Homo sapiens: one gene and its partner. The protein of the gene in region 2 purifies or fractionates together with the protein of the main gene of each other region. This does not show direct contact. Each region holds a gene or a part of one and is shown on either strand. Other genes may lie near its edges.

Region 1 (2,830 bases), on a different chromosome or scaffold from region 2:
AGCCTTTTAGAACTGTAAGATTTTTTAAAACTGTTTGCATATAATGTTTGAAGGTGGGAATGGGACCAGAGAGGCGACAATTTTACCTGGAGAAACAACCTCCCGAAACCATTTAGTAAGTAAAGTGAATTCCATCACACCTACACCCATTCACTGTTTTTATTTTTTTTTTGAGACATGTTCTCACTCTGTTGCCCAGGCTGGAGTGAAGTGACACGAACTGGGCTCACTGCAATCTCTGCCTCCCAGGTTCAAGCGATTCTCATGCCTCAGCCTCCTGAGTAGCTGGAATTACAACTGTGCACCATCATGCCCAGCTAATTTTTGTATTTTAGTAGAGATGGGGTTTTGCCATGCTGGCTAGACTGGTCACTGTTTTTATTTTATAATTAATTTTAGCTAAAGCATATGGGTTCATTTACAAAAATAAGTTTGGTCTTTTATTATAAATACTTCTAGTTGTAAAAAATTCATTTTCACATTTGAATGTCCTTGAAAGTATCCAAAGGATTCATTCTCCTTCTGCATTCTGCTTCTCAGAAAGTACTTTTGGGTTAGATCTGTTCCGAATTCTTTTTCTTTTTCTTTTCTTTTCAGAAGCAGATGATTGTGTGTCCGGTGCCTTTTTCTTTTTCTTCAAACAACTAAGAGGATTGGGACCACTTATTTTCTTGCGCTTTTTTCTTCTACTCTGTTCAGTGTTTTTCACTAAACCCTGTTCCTCTTTGAGATGTTTGATACTTTCTTTCTCATGCACTGAGACAAGCTGACCTGACTCCACTGCTTTTACAAAGGCAATTGTTTTGGGAGAAGGTTTGTCCAAAACCATAGTGTTCTGAATAATAAACATGAGAGGAACTCCAGGCTTCTTTTTTACTTTCACAGACAAATTCTGATCCTATTTAAAAGAAAACAGAATTATTTAGTTCAAATGTCAATTAAGGTACCTTAAATAGGTTTTCAAGAACTGTATTAAAAATAAAAGAGATCACAGATTTTATTTTTCAAATGAGTAAGCCTCACTTATTCATTTGAGTAATGGGGGTATATTTCATGATAAAGGAAGAAAAACATAAAAACTGAGCACAGTGTTAGTAGCAGCTGTGTGAACCGGATTTATCGATACTCTAGAGCCACAAATTACAAACTAATGCAAAGGTAAATGTGTTAGGTGGGTTTCTCCTGTTTCCACTCTAAGATATTCTTTGGAAAGGGTCAAGAATGCTTAAAGAGGTTAAAGGAAAAGAAACTGGGTAGTAATTAGCTACTCAGATTCTAAATTCAGCTCTACCTCTGTGTAATTTTATAATTCTGATAATCAAATCTGTATGTATGTGAACTTAATATCACCCCCAAAAGTCTCTCTTCTCCTGCCTTCAAGAAGATGGGAATATTTTTCTTCAAAAGCCTGAAATATTTCATACTGTTGGTACAGTCTTAAGCAGTATGAACCATGACTTTGAGAAACAGTATGAAATACAGGAACATGAAAAAAATTAACAGAATACAGGCACTTTGCTCTACTTATCTTCCCTTCAAGAACCCTACAACAAATCATCACATCTCATGTCAACAATTTCTTGTTTTAAAAAAAGAAACTTCTGCCAGTGTCCAGCATGATGGCAAACACCTGTAATCCCAGGTACTCAGGAGCTGAGGTGGAAGGATCACTTTAGCCTAGGGGTTCGAGACCAGCCTAGGCAATATAGTGAGACCCTCAAGTCTCAAGAAACAAACAAAAAAAGCAAAACAAAGGAATCATTAAAAAAAACAAAACCCAACCTTCCACTACTAAAAAGAATATCAACATGCTTAAAGTTTTCCTCAAATTCTCAAATGACAATTGCTTTTACTGACTGCAAATTAACTTAGAAGCCTGTATTTTTAAAAGTCTAATCATTCTAACTTTTTTCTGATTATAAATAGCTCCATATGAAGTATAAATAGAAATGGTGAAAATTGCCTGTGGTTTTAAAAGTAGTATCACCTGTGTTGCCACAAAATAATGATGAGGATTTCCCTCTTCAACCATGGAAAGCAGACATTCTGATCCACTCACTGCATTCTTGAAATGAGGACAATTTCGAACTTGGCATTTTTGTGCAATCAGTTTTGCCCCATATAAGTCCTTTCCCAATGTTTCTAGCTCTTTTAACACACATCTGAAAAGAAAAATTATAGCAGATACATTTCACTTGTTTACATAAGGTGTAAAAAACAATAGTCGATTTTTTCTTAAAATAAAACTATGCTGTTACAATCTAAATTTGTCATCTGGTAACCATTTACTTTAAAAGATCACTTGAAAAATGCATTTACCAAGTAGGAAGAACAACAGTTAAAATTAACTGAGCACTTATTATGTTCCATGTAGTATGCAAATTGCTCTTTACATAAATTCTTGATTAATCTCAAAGTAACCCTATGAAGTTAGGTCGCTTACCTTGAAATTATCCTTATTTTAGAGCACCCCATTCTGAGATTTCAAGTAACATGCCAAAGTTCAAGTAACTAGCAAGTGGTACCGAGACTTGCAGTTTGACAACAGCTCCCTTGTCCCAACCATAGCGTAATAAGCTTCTGCTTCAAGTACAAATTGGTATACTTTCAAAACATTTTCAATTCAGAACAGTAAAACTTCTCACATCATCAAGTTGTTTTTAAAAAAACATTTAGTCATAAGAGTTCCTCAACCCTAGCCAGCATTTGCCAGATTCTTTCTTGCTTCATCTCCTTTATCATCTTTCTGTTTCAAGAAGATTTTGCTTGCTTTAGTCATTAGACTTGACCTCTATTTTGAGTACTGCCAGCCTGTGGATGTCCTGCTATC
Region 2 (3,500 bases):
GTGCATAAATTTATTTTTATGTCTGACTTGCTATTTAAAAATGTACAAACAAGCCAGGTGCCATGGCTCACGCCTGCAATCCCAACACTTTGGGAGGCTGAGGTAGGAGGATCACTTGAGGCCAGGAGTTTGAGACTAGCCTGGGCAACAAAGTGAGACCCCCATCCCTATAAAAAACTAAAAAATTTGCCGGGCAGGTGGCACACACCTCTGGTCCCAGCTACAAGGGAGGCTGAGGCAGGAGGATCCCTTGAGCCAGTAGGTCAAGGTTGCAGTGAGCCATGATCATGCCACTGCACTCTAGCCTGTGTAACAGAGTGAGATTCTGTCTAAAAAAAAAAAAAAAAAAAAAAAAAAAAAAAAATTACAAACAGCTGGCAAAATTTTTTTCAGATCTTCTGCTTTAATACTGACAATATTGAACTTCACCTGAGCTCTGTGATTCTGGAAAATAAGGATGGCCAAAAAATCTCCCCATCCTAGGTGGGTGCAATAGTGCAAGCCTGTAGTCCCAGCTACTAAGGGAGGCTGAGGTAGGAGGATCACTTGAGCCCAGGAGTTAGGAGTTGGAGTCTAGGCTGGGCAACATAGTGAGATCCCATCTCTAGAAACAAACAAACAAACAAAAATCTTCCCACAGTTTTATGTCCAGGAAATAATTTTTTATTTTGGAAGTGATGTGGAACCAACTTTTTCCACATCAGTTAGATAAGTTTTATGGATGGCTCCCTCATTTATCTGACAAAGCCAGACACAGACCCTCCAAATTCCCATTCTTTGTCTCATAAGTGATTAGCTGAACTGTTCACTGCCACTGACCAATCTGGACAATATATCTACTAACTTGACCAAACTTTAGTCAGGATTTAGCCCTCCCCATAGGCCCTAGAACCTTGACCTATTCTTGGGCTTAAGCAAGCATTGGTATGCTGAAGAACCTTCAGGAAAAGATGTTCCCTGATCCAATCAGCTATCTGATCAGATTATCCCAGCTCTTCATCTTACTTCCCCATAACCCAGTTTGTTCTACCCTTTGTATTCCTTGCTAACAAAGAAAACTTTTTCGCTTAATGTTTGAGATATAAATCTTATGACTTGAGCATTTTCCCTATTGCAATAGTCTTTTCAAAAAAAGTGTCTCCTTACCTAATTCCAGATTTGCTTTTTATTTGACAATACCAACCTTCAGTGCTTCCTGGAGCTTGCATAATTTACTTTCCAAAATGCAAAACTGTTGTTTTACACTGTAAAGTTCTCGGTGGCAGATACGAGATGGAAAGATGGTGTCTTTCAATACTTCTAAACTCTGAAATTAATAATAAACAATTCTGAGTCCTATGAGTAATATGATAAGGACAAGAAAACAGGAACCAGAAAGTGACTTGATGTATGTTTTTATAGAAGCAAAGGCAGACTTGACTCAATAATTTCATCTTATCTAAGTTTAGCTTGAGGGTTGGACTGACTTGAGCACATATGTATATAAACACCAAGTGTGTAGAAAAACTATAGCACTGAAAACAGGGATGTCACATCCATACCTGGGTTATGCAGTTCTGGCACCAGCTGTATATAGACCATACTCTATTTGTCCAAAGTTTTATTGCATCTCTGATGTTAGGAAAATTGAAGTTCCAGGATGATGTTAGCCAGCTTCTGCTTTGAGATATATCTATTGAAGAAATACCGACTCTGTAGGAAAAACAAAATGAAACAAATAAAAAACCCCTAAGTCAGAATAATAGCCTTGGCCTGGTGTGGTGGCTCATGCCTCTACTGCTAGCACTTTGGGAGGCTGAGGTGAGGAGATTGCTTGAGACCAGGAGTTCAAGACTAGCCTCGGCAACATGGCAAAACCCTGTCCCTGCCAAAAAAAAAAAAAAAAAAAAAAAAAACTTAATCAGGCATGGTGGTGTGCCAGAAGAGAGAAGAATATGCAAACCAGGTTTGAAGATGGGTTAAATCAGAGCTTTTCATTCCACAAAAGAGAACTTTTAATGGGGTCAGAACATTGATCTTCTAATATATGAAAGCCTGTTAACTAGGAGAGAGATAGCAAACTGTTTTGTCAGGACCCACCCAGCTCTGGCGGTTTAAAGCGTCATGAATGGAAATTTGAACTCCAGAAAAGCAGAGCTTCCTACCAATGGGACTTCCATAGCAATGGGATCTGCTTCCTCATTCAGTTTGGGCCTTTCCCATGAGCAAGAGACTCCTAGGAGAGCCACAGCCCATTAGGAAGCCATATGGGAACTCACTCACAGGTTCTTTGTTTATTTTTTTGAGACGGAGTTTTGCTCTTGTTGCCCAGGCTGGAGAGCAATGGTGCGATCTTGGCTCACGGCAACCTCCGCACCCCGAGTTCAAGTGATTCTCCAGTCCCCGCTCCTGAGTAGCTGGGATTACAGGCACCCGCCACCATGCCTGGCTAATTTTTTGTATTTTTAGTAGAGACGGGGTTTCACCATGTTGGCCAGGCTGGTCTCACACTCCTGACCTCAAGTGATCCACTTCCTTTGGCCTCCCAAAGTGCTGGGATTACAGGCGTGAGCCACTGAGCCCGGCCAGGAACTGACAGGTTTTTTGGATGGTCTCTGAATGTCATCCAACTCTTTTATTTTTTATCAAAAAAATTTTTTTTGACACAACGTCTTGCTGTGTTGCCTAGACTGGAGTGCGGTGGCAAGATCATAGCTCACTGCAGCTTCTAAGTCCTGGGCTCAAGCGATCTTCCTGTCGCATGAGTCTCCCAAGTAGTTGGAACAAGGTGCCAGCCACCACACCTGGCTAATTTGGTTTGGTTTTGTTTTTTTAGAGATGGGGTCATGCTATGTTGCCTACACTGGTCTTGAACTGCTGGCCTCAGGCAATCTTCCTCCCTTGGCCACCCAAAGTGCTGGGATTACAAACATGAGCCACTGTGCACAGCTGAGATTTTTCGACTTAGTCTTTTTGTACATGCGATATTTTATTCATAGAATCCATAAATGGTAGGGAAATTTCTGAGTTCAGAGCAATACATATGATACAAAACTTAATATATAGACTAGAGTTTCTTAGCCGAACTGGAGGGGCTGGCCTTAGGTAATCCATGGACTCCCTGAAACTGGGGACACCATTGGAAATATGAGTGAGCTCATGGGCAGTTTCCTATGATTTTCAGGCCTCAAAATGTCTCTTGGACTCAAAGATGCCTTACGGCAGAGGACACGTGTACCCCCAGTATAGAATCTCGGACAGTGAATGTCAGTAAACATTCGGCAGAAAAGCTCTGCCAAATTGAGTGCTCTGATGTGACTTTTTCATCAAGTCAATGTTCCTGGGATCTCTTGTATATGATAATCTCACACTTGTAAGGTTTCATAGTTTCTGCTTACCCTAGTTTTCTTTCCCACCCTCCCTCTCCCACCAGACTGGACTCTGAAATGGGCATGTACAGAGAAGAGGAGACCCCAAAATGCTTCAGGCTTTGAGTGGAGAAGACACAGCCTCTGCTGGGA

What was found. The genes of interacting proteins can lie anywhere in the genome.
Region 1: the proteins of PRR11 (region 2) and UTP23 purify together in Homo sapiens (affinity purification with mass spectrometry; 3 studies listed by BioGRID and IntAct, with this or other methods). This does not show direct contact.

The regions. Positions count from the first base shown.
Region 1 is NC_000008.11:116,769,524-116,772,353, reverse strand, and holds part of UTP23 (rRNA-processing protein UTP23 homolog), read right to left. Parts: intron 2,163-2,830; coding exon 1,988-2,162; intron 899-1,987; coding exon 512-898; 3' UTR 1-511. UniProt on the Homo sapiens protein: Involved in rRNA-processing and ribosome biogenesis.
Region 2 is NC_000017.11:59,183,246-59,186,745, reverse strand, and holds part of PRR11 (proline-rich protein 11), read right to left. Parts: intron 1,693-3,500; coding exon 1,542-1,692; intron 1,307-1,541; coding exon 1,184-1,306; intron 1-1,183. UniProt on the Homo sapiens protein: Plays a critical role in cell cycle progression.